2 separate regions of the Homo sapiens genome follow, and region 1 is reported to be linked to region 2. The links are microRNA targets in miRTarBase. Many come from high-throughput screens and were not tested one by one. Region 2 holds a microRNA gene; the other region holds the end of a gene's coding sequence.

Region 1 (5,000 bases), not on the chromosome of region 2:
TGCTGGCAGTTAGGGCAGGATCACTCTTTTCCTTGTTCGGGAATGTTCCTGAATGCCCAGCTTGAATGCCCTGCATTAAACAATGCATAAACAGTTCTGTTCAGCCATCGCGGGGACACTACACTCTATGGTCCCCACCCACTAAAGGAGACCCGTGTGCTACCTCTCAGGCGCTAAAGCAGCCTAAAGTATGAGGGACCCTTCCCATTTCTGCTTCCAGAGCACCCATTGGTGGGCCCAGCCACAGGTGGGACCTTGTGGCCAATCCAGGGAGGAGAGCAGTAAAGGTATGGTGCCCACATTCAGGGTGGTGGCAGAAGTCTGGGCAGGCCGAGGGCCCTCCAAAGAGCACTGTGTAGGGGATTGTGATTTTTTTTTTTTTTTCCTGGAGGGGACAGAGTCTCGCTCTGTCAACAGCCTGGAGTGCAGTGGCGCGATCTTGGCTCACTGCAACCTCCGCCTCTCGGGTTCAAACGTTTCTCTGAGTAGCTGGGACTACAGGCGCCCGCCACCACGCCAGCTAATTTTTGTATTTTCAGTAGAGACGGGGTTTCACCATGTTGGCCAGGATGGTCTAGATCTCTTGACCTCGTGATCCACCCACCTCGACCTCCCAAAGTGCGGAGATTACAGGTGTGAGCCACCACGCCCGGCTGGGATTGTGACTTAATGGACTTTGTCTGGAAACAGGGGAGGATGCCCTTTGCCGGTATTTCAGTAACGAGCGGATTCCTCCGATCATTGAAGAGAGCTCCTCTCCCCCATACCGGTTCTCCAGACCCACGACCGAGCGGCATCTGGTCCGGGGTGCGGACTACATCCGAGGAAGCAGGTGCTACATCAACTCAGATCTCCACAGCAGCGCCACGATTCCATTCCAGGAGGAAGGGACCAAAAAGAAATCTGGCTCCTCAGCTACGAAGTCCTCGTCCACAGAACCGTCCCTCCTGGTCAGCTGGTTTACGCGCCTCAAACTGTTGACTCACTGAGAGGGACCCTGCTCAGGCCACCTGCCTGGCTCCTGCCCCAAGTGCCTTGCTTTTACAGTGGACAGCCTCTTCTCGTTTCAGCCTCAGTATTATGTAGGGACCTTATGCAATTTCTTTTTCTTTTGAAAAGTTATCTACTGCCCTTCTTGGAAGTTTGCAGGATTGGATGGGAACAAATTCAGAGGATCTTAGGTGCTGGCTTGTGGAGACAAAAGGAGGGAAATGGGTAGAGCCTGTTTGTCTTGCTTCCCCAGAGATAGAATGTGAAGACACGCGCTAGAAATCGCAGTCCTGGCCAGAGACGTTATGGTCATTGTGAGGGACTGGTGGCATTGTTCCTTTTTGAGGGGCTGGGGGGACTCAAATTGGTGGCTGTTTTCACACAGATGTGTTGGTTTGTGGTCCAACTTCTTTATCTGAAAAAGCCAGTGAGAAAACATTTTTGATTTGATTTTTCTAAACTATCTACCATATTTTAAGTGTAGCAGCTTTGACTTTGCAATAACGTGGCAAGTATCTGATTTCTCCTTTGAGGCAGAGGTTTAAGTGTAGGCCTGTTACACTTGTTTGATACCTTTTTCATGACAGTCTCAGTATAGATCAGTTGGTACAGAAATACATGAACACATTTTGATAGGGCTTATTTCACACAAAGAAGTTTATGGTTATTTGTGTGGGGTGGTGTTGTTATATATTATTGTCTTTAAGGGAAAAGAAGCTATAAGATTCGCTGACAGCCAAAGTATCATTTAGAAAAGTGAAGCAACAAGATTTAGGTTGATGAAAGATACATGAGTTTGCATTTTGACCTGTTCAGTGTCTGTCTTCCAGCACGGTGTGTACACTTCTTCAAAATTGTACACAGTTTGCTAATTAGAAATATCTTGGAAAGCCTCATGGTCACTAATTTTCAACTAGCATCAGGTATTTTGAAAACGTGTGTCTGGATATTAACTCTTGTTTAAACTGAATGTATGATATTTTGTTAGAATGGAAAAGTACTATCTTGTTAATTTAAGTATTTTAAATATAGTTGTATATTTTTCTTACTCTTAGTCACCTGTAATTGAAATATTTCTGTTTTGCGTCATACACGAAGCTAGTGAAAAAGAAAGTGCAAGGCATTTTCAGATGAGCAAGTGACTATCGTGGCTGTTGCCAGCAGGGCAGTATTGTTAAAAAAAATCAAAATAAACCCTCCCAAGCATTTTGGGATTTTATGGATTAGAAATGGAAGAACAGGAGAAGCATATGCAAAGTGAAATTGCACGAGGGGAATTTTCTGAGGTATCTTCCTAGGCAGAGCCGAAATCTCCTACTCCAAAATGCCCTTTCTCATACCACCGGAATTGTTGAGTTTGCTGAACTGCCTGGAATTCAGCCCATGAAAATCACTGGAGTTAGGAAACATCTTCCCTTTAAAATGCTTCTGGTGTGGTTAAAGGAACTAGCAACCACTCATGTATAATTACTGTGACTGAATTCAGTCAGGCTGGTTTTTTTTGTTTGTTTGTTTGTTTTTGAGATGGAGTCTCAATCTGTCACCCAGGCTGGAGTGCAGTGGCGCAATCTCAGCTCACTGCAACCTCCACCTTCCAGGTTCAAGCGATTCTCCTGCCTCAGCCTCCCATGTAGCTGGGATTATAGGTGCCCGCCACCATGCCTGGCTAATTTTTGTATTTTTAGTGGAGACGGGGTTTCACTACGTTGGCCAGGCTGGTCTCAAACTCCCAACCTCAACTGATCTGCCGGCCTCAGCCTCCCAAAGTGCTGGGATTACAGGCATGAGCCACCACACCCGGCTCAGTCTGGCTGTTTTCTTCTCTACCTCTAAGACAACTGCCATGAAGATCTGGTATTTCGGCCTGGCGCAGTGGCTCATGCCTGTAATTCCAGAACTTTGGGGGGCCAAGGTGGGTGGATTACCTGGGGTCAGGAGTTCAAGACCAGCCTGGCCAACATGGTGAAACCCTGTCTCTACTAAAAATCAGCTTCGCATGGTGGTGGGCACCTGTAGTCCCAGCTACTCGGGAGGCTGAGGCAGGAGAATCACTTGAACCCTGGAGGCGGAGGTTGTAGTGAGCCAAGATCAGGCCACTGCACTCCAGCCTGGGTGACAGAAGGAGACTCTGTCTCAAAAAAAAAACAAAAAGAAAAAGATCTGGTATTTCATGGAGACATGGAGACCCAAGGGTGTTTGGCAGATGGAGAGAAGAGGCTTGCAGTGTGTGACCACAGGGTGTTCAACACACTAGGAGGGTGGGGTGTGGGCTGGGGAGGTCTCGTGTAGGGCACTGGTGATGAGGAGGGAGCTGTGTACGAGGGGCGAGCCAGCCCTGCCTGTTTTACTCTTGTCTTGAGCTGGCTTTATGCCCAGGAAGTGGGTGGCAACATCTCCTCTTACTCCCCAGATTGTGGGGAGAACTCTAAGAGCTGTAGTTCCACTGGATGATGAGTTAAATCACTCTGGAGGCCTTAGCTGGCTGGTGAGCTCTTTTTCTGTGGGGAAAATGCCACTTGTGAATTGAACAGCCATCCTTTAAGTGAATATTCGGCAGTCAGTCTTCATTATAGGCAGTGGCCAACCAGATTGGTGCTTTTCAGCCTTTGTTCCCTGGAGTCCCAGGACCCGCGAGAGAAGTTCCTGGCTCCTCTACTTGCAGTCACCCTCCACAGCTTCATCTTTCTTTTTATTTGAGGTTTTCTCCTGAATTGTGTTTGAAAAATATATTGCTGCTAAAAAAAAAAAACCTTTGTAAACCTCTACTATGGACATACATAAATAATAGTTTAATATGGATTTCTTAGAAATTAATGGAAACTGCTTGCCTCAGTAGTAATCCAGGTTTAATTGTGGACGTGTGTTCACATATGAAGTTGCTTGATGATGCTTTTTGACAGGATTCTTTATTTTTATTTCTTTAAAAAAAATTTTTTTTTTTTTCTGAGACAGATTCTCACTCTGTCACCCAGGCTAGAGTGCAGTGGTACAATCTCAACTCACTGCAGCCTCTGCCTCCCAGGTTCAGGCAATTCTCCTGCCTCAGCCTCCCAAGTAGCTGGGATTACAGGTGCCCGCCACCACACCTGGCTAATTTTTGTATTTTTAGTAGAGATGGAGTTTCACCATGTTGGCCAGGCTGATCTTGAACTCCTTGACAGGATACTTTACAAGAGTGATTGTTAAAACTCTCCCAGACACAACTCAACACCTACCCCTATTATAATATTTTATAGCATCACTTTTCAATCTTCAAATGAAAATCATGGATGATGAAGCTTACCTTCACTCATAAAAACATCACTCCATTTACTATTCTGAAATGAAACTAGCAGGTAATATAACTAGCCTCTAAAACATACCCATCAGTGACGTTCTAACTGAAACAGATAAGATATTTTATAATGAAATAATTATTTTCATATGTACATATTCTAGCATGGTTATATTACAAGATGTAATTAAACTACTAAGCAGGGCACATACTTTGTATGTGTGTGTATAAATATAAATATGTGAAAAATCACCATGAATGTGGTAGTTACCAATTCAGACCTGCTGCATTGGCAGTTCAATACCAGGAAAGGGGTCGATGTCAGCAGTATGATTTTCTAAAATGTGGCCAATTCTTTAGATAAAGTTCTAGGCATACCTAGTCTGTAATGGCTTCACTCATATAGTGCTTGCTGTGTGCCTGGCATTGTTCTAATACCTTTCTAATAAATCTATGAGGTGAGTACTGCTGTTAGTCCCGTTTTGCATATGAGGGAGTTACCCAGGTTATGTGCTAGTCATCCTGGTTATGTGCTAATAATGGCAGAGCTGGGATTAAAATGAAAGCAGCCTGGCTCTGGCTTTCTTGCTCATAATCACTCAGTATATAGGCTTCCTTCCATTTATAGAATTCTCTCATTGCATTCTTGAAAAATCCAAAGCATATTAAAACTGGGCTGAAAATTCTGTGTGTTTATATATAAAATGAAATGAGATCATAGATTTGTTATTGTAAA
Region 2 (5,000 bases):
CTGGGACCGCCGTGGGAGCGCGCGTGTGCGGGGTTGTGGATCTGCAGGTGTCTCGCCTGGGTGTGTGCGCGTGTCTGGCTCCGAGTTTGTGCTGGGTTCTGCAGGGAGTGGTGGTGTCGATCCAGAGGAATGTTGGGGTTTCTGACCCGTCGGGGTGTCTGCGTGAGTCCCCGCGCCTGTTTGTGTGGGGTTCTGTCTGTGGGTGCCCTGCTTGTGGGGTGGGTGGACCTGCGTGTGTTGTCGGTGAGAGTTGTCTGTGTGTGCTGTTCCGGGATGATACTGGGGGTCTGTGGTGCCTGCGTGTGCTGGGGTGTGGAGGTTGTAGTGTGTGTGTGTTGCTGGAGTGAGCTGTTTGTGTGTTTATGTGTGTGTCTTGCCCGAGCGTGCGATATGTGTGCTTGTGTCTTGCCTGTGTGTTTCTGTCTTGGCTGAGGCCGTCTCTGTATCTCCGGGGCATGTGTCTTTTGCCCAGCGTTTGTGATGCTGCGCCTGCTAAATGCAAATGTCTGTTTTCTGTCCAGGTGTCTGTGTGAGTTGTCAGGTGTGAGTGTGTGTGTGTATGTATGTGTGTGGTGGGGGGTTGTTTCAGTCTGGGTTTGGCTTGTGTGTCTGGCATCAGCGTCTGGGATTTGAGGACCCAGGATCTGTGGGGTCTATGCAGTGTAGACGGTGGGTGTTGCTGGCAGCCTCTGGATGGGGTTGTGTCTGAGCCTGTGTGTGTGTGTGTGTGTTGGGTCTGAGGGGCTTGTCACTGTGATCGGCTGGCTCATGTGTGTCATGTGGGCTGCGTGTGTGTAGTGTTTATGTCAGTCACGTGAGACCAGTGTTTTCTGTGGGTGCGCTAGGTGTGTGTGCTGCTGGGCTGTGTGGGATTAGAGTTAGCTGTAGGGTGTGTGTGTGTGTGTGTTGCTGACAGTTGGTGATGATGTTTGAGGGTTGCGTGAGGAGGGTGGGTTGGTGTCTGGTGGTGTGTTGAGGTCTGATGGCATGTGTCTGTGTGTGCCTGATCTACGTGTGTCCTGAGAGTTGGTGACATGTGGGTGTGTTTTGGGGGTGTTGATGTATGTGTGTCCGTGGGTGTCTGTTTTGTGTTGATATGTGAGTCCAGAGGTGTGCAGGTCTTATCTCTGGAGTGAGTGTGTGTGTGTGGAGAGGGGCATGTTTGGGAACTGAGGCAGTGCCTAGCTTGTGTGTGTGTGTTTGTGTTTGCAAAGGCTGCATTGTGTTTGCATGTGCCCCTGGGCATATCAACAGTGGGTCAGTGTGTGAGACTTTGACAGTTTGGATGTGTGGGGATGGATTGTGCCAGCCAGTGTGCGCAGTATGTAGAGTGCTTGTGATGGTCTGTCTGGATGCTCCTGCTTTGGTCGGGGGTGTGTGTGTATTGTGTGTACTGAGTAGTGATGTCCGAGACTGGGGCCATCTCAGTGTTTGTGTGCAAGTGGGAGGTGGGGTGGGCGGTCAGGCTGGCCAGTCCCGTGTGAGTCCTTGTGTGTGTGCTGTGGGGGCCTCGCTGTGCCTCACTGCCCTCCCTGTGTGCCCGTCGCTGTGTTGGGAAAGTTGTCCCCACCAGCCCATGCTGTGAGTCCCAAGTGGAGTGAGTTTGTGTTGTGGGACTGTCACAGCCCTCATACACACACCTGCTAGACCCCTCCATCCGTCCTGTGTGAGCCCTGTCCTTGCTGTGAGAGCCGTCCTGTGCCCCCTGTCCCTCCTGTGTGCCCATCACCGTATGCACGGGAGGCTCTCCAGGCCAGCCAGGACCCGGTGGTGTCATCCCCCGGCTGGGCGTGTCTCTGTGGGGCCGTCACCCCCTCCGCATGCACACACACCTCCACTCTTCTCCATCTGGGTCCTAACCCCGGGTAGGCTGGAGGTACAGTGGGCCCTGGTACTTCCCTGCTGACCTGCTCCTCCTCCCGTGTCCCGCAGGCCCCAGGGAGCGCCATGGCCCGCGCACGCCAGGAGGGCAGCTCCCCGGAGCCCGTAGAGGGCCTGGCCCGCGACGGCCCGCGCCCCTTCCCGCTCGGCCGCCTGGTGCCCTCGGCAGTGTCCTGCGGCCTCTGCGAGCCCGGCCTGGCTGCCGCCCCCGCCGCCCCCACCCTGCTGCCCGCTGCCTACCTCTGCGCCCCCACCGCCCCACCCGCCGTCACCGCCGCCCTGGGGGGTTCCCGCTGGCCTGGGGGTCCCCGCAGCCGGCCCCGAGGCCCGCGCCCGGACGGTGAGTGCCCGCCCCGCCCCCGGGGTGATAGGAGCCGGGAAGAGAGAGGGCTGGAGACTCGGAGGAACTGGAGAAGTGGGAGAGGACGGGGGGAGGTGGCGGGCCCAGCCGGGCCACTGGGAGGGTGTGGCCAATGTGGTCTTTGTGTTGCAAGAAGCAGGAAGACGGAGGCTGGGGGTGGAGGGGGAGGTCAAGTGGGAAGTCCCTCCTGGAATCTGACTGCAGTCCCCGAATTGCAGCCCACTGTCTCTTCCGGGCCTGGGGCAACAGCTGCATCCCAGCTCCCCTCCCCCAGTCTGGGTCCTCTAGACCCCCTGGAGGATTCCTGTTGCAGGGAGAGTGGGCCGAGCGGGAGGACTGTCAACTCTGGCCTCTGGGGAGGGGTCGAGAGGCCTTTTGCTTTTATTTGCATCTCTTTGGCCAGGGGCTGTCCTCAGCAGTCCCGGCGGAGGAAGGAGAGGGGGAGGGGCCATTGTGTTGGGAAGTCCCCTCGGGGAGGTGGGGGAGTCTTGGGGAGGGAAGGGTTAAAGGTCCCCTGCCTGATGGGCTGTTAACCCTGTGGTGCCCGTGGAGCCCCATCCCTGCCGGCAGGCGCTCTAGGGAAAGTGTGTCCTGGTTTCCCATCCCCCATCTTGTCCCGGCAGCCCAAGGGGAGCGAGGAAAGAGAAAACTTCCCTAACTCAGTTCCTGGAAGCCCTGGAAGGGGACACCGATTTCAAGGCCAAGGTCACAGATGTGGAAACTGAGGCCCTGGCTGTAGGCCTTAGGGAACCCTCAGGCCAGGACCTGGTGGGACGGGAGGGCAGGAGCCTCCTAGGGCGCTCAGAAGTGGGGGGGGGGGGGGGGCAGGAAGGCATCTCCCGCGTCCCAGCCCCCCAGGCCCGCGCTCTGAAGCTGCCACAGTCTCTGGCCTTCTGGTCTCTAGGCCTCTGCCACATCCGGAGGTGTGGCTTCCCTGTGGTTGGACACGAGAGGGCAGGAGACCTGAGGCTTGTGATCTGGGTGGGGTCAGTCACTGTATCCCTGTGTGACCTTGGGATACTCCCTAAGGGCGGGCCTCAGTTTCCCTGCCTGTCACATGGAAAAGGCAAAATGTGGCCCCTTTGGAAAATAGAGGTCGTTAAGCCTGACCACCCCCGGGGTCACCTCTCTGGCCGTCTACCTTCCACACTGACAAGGGCCGTGGGGACGTAGCTGGCCAGACAGGTGACCCCAGAGCGGCGTCCCCAGGTACTTCTTGCTTTCTGGTGCCTGTGGAGGAGAAGCTGAGAAATTGACTCACTAGCGATGGGATCACTAGAAATGAGGCGGGGAGCAGTGGCTGGGAAAGAGGGGAGCAGGCCGAGACACCTCGAGGCCTGGAGGGGTGGTGGGTGCTGACCGCGCCCCTCTGCCTCTCCAAGGTCCTCAGCCCTCGCTCTCGCTGGCGGAGCAGCACCTGGAGTCGCCCGTGCCCAGCGCCCCGGGGGCTCTGGCGGGCGGTCCCACCCAGGCGGCCCCGGGAGTCCGCGGGGAGGAGGAACAGTGGGCCCGGGAGATCGGGGCCCAGCTGCGGCGGATGGCGGACGACCTCAACGCACAGTACGAGCGGCGGGTGAGTGCTGGGGGTGGGGTAGACGGCAGGTGGGACTTCCGCCGGAGGAGGGGGCGGCAGGCGGCCCCCGCCAGATGTGCGGCAGCTGCTGCCCTGCGCGGCTGGGTCGCTCCGCGGACAGGCAGGTGGGGGGTAAGTGGGTGGGGGGGAATCGCGCGCCCGCAGAGCCGCCCAAGGACTCCGCGCCGCGGCTGGCATAGCCGGAGCCCGAGCCAGGGCCAGGGCCAGGGCCAGGGACTAGGCCGCCGAGGAGTGGAGCTGCGCGCCCGTGGCCCGCGGCCGCGGGGACTGAGGGCGGCGCTGGGCGGCGCGGCTCATATATCCCGGGCTATTTATAGCCGGTGAGTCAGCAGCCGCGCCGCGCCCGCCCCCTGCCGTCCCTCTCGCGCGGCCCGCAGCGCCACACAGTTTCCCGGGCGCCGGGGCGGGCCGGGGACCGCAGGGGTGGGCTCGCAGCCCCGCCCCGCGGGAGGCCCCGCCCCCCAGCCCCTGGCACGGCCTCGATTTTTTAAAACAAATATTCGAAGCCCACAGCAGAGAATGGGAAATCACAAACATCATGCGCCCACCAGGCAGCTCTGTTCAGTTTGAACATTACACCCGCATTGCTTGCTTATTAAGAAACCAAACAAAACCGCAGAAACGCATGTGGTGAAGCTCCTTACTCTCCCCATCCCTTCCCCCTCCTTGCATCCAAAGGAAATCTCTCGAGTTGGCCTCTCTCAACCCCTGCAGGTGTTGCTTTTACTCCGTATTTACCAGGCCAGAACCAGGGCTTAGAATCATGGAGCATTCTTAGCTTAGCGTATATGACATAGTTTTTGTTTCTCCCCAGAATTCCTTTTTCCCTCAATATTAGGCTTCAGATTCACCATATGGGCAAAAGAGCTTCCATTCATCTATGTTCAGCCAGGCACGGTGGCTCACTCCTGTAATCCCAGCACTTTGGGAGGCGGAGATAGAAGGACGCTTGAGCCCAGGAGTTCCAGACCAGCCTGGGCCACATAATGAGATCCCCGTTGCTACAAAAAATACAAAAATTAGCCGGGTGTGGTGGCGCGGGCCTGTAGTCTCAGCTACTTGGGAGGCTGAGGTGAAAGGGTCCCTTGAGCCAAGGAAGTCGAGGCTGCACTGAGCCATGAAGGGTCACTGAACTCCAGCCTGGGGGACAGAGCAAGACCATCT

Evidence for each region. Region 2 holds the annotated microRNA hsa-miR-3190-5p (UCUGGCCAGCUACGUCCCCA, at 3,405-3,424, opposite strand). A microRNA usually pairs through its seed, bases 2 to 8, with sites in the 3' UTR of a target mRNA and lowers its output. Matches are read on the target gene's strand: a 7mer-m8 pairs with bases 2 to 8, a 7mer-A1 pairs with bases 2 to 7 and ends in A, and an 8mer does both.
Region 1: miRTarBase lists CNKSR3 as a target of hsa-miR-3190-5p. Seed matches in the 3' UTR shown: 8mer at 1,282-1,289, 7mer-m8 at 2,698-2,704 and 7mer-m8 at 4,122-4,128.

What each region holds. Positions count from the first base shown.
Region 1 is chr6:154,402,343-154,407,342 of GRCh38, reverse strand. CNKSR3 (CNKSR family member 3) reads left to right here. Exons shown (of 13, transcript NM_173515.4): 13 at 691-5,000. The coding sequence ends at 989. Among named protein-coding and RNA genes, the nearest start is that of IPCEF1, 48 kb to the right of the region's middle.
Region 2 is chr19:47,225,379-47,230,378 of GRCh38, reverse strand. It overlaps MIR3190 (microRNA 3190), which reads right to left and starts at 3,437; the gene lies at 3,358-3,437. It overlaps BBC3 (BCL2 binding component 3), which reads left to right. Exons shown (of 4, transcript NM_014417.5): 2 at 1,933-2,221; 3 at 3,625-3,815. The coding sequence starts at 1,948. MIR3191 (microRNA 3191) reads left to right here and starts at 3,360; the gene lies at 3,360-3,435. RefSeq lists silencers at 1-22, 1,883-2,322, 3,543-3,842, 4,212-4,378, 3,873-4,432 and enhancers at 2,355-3,297, 4,506-5,000.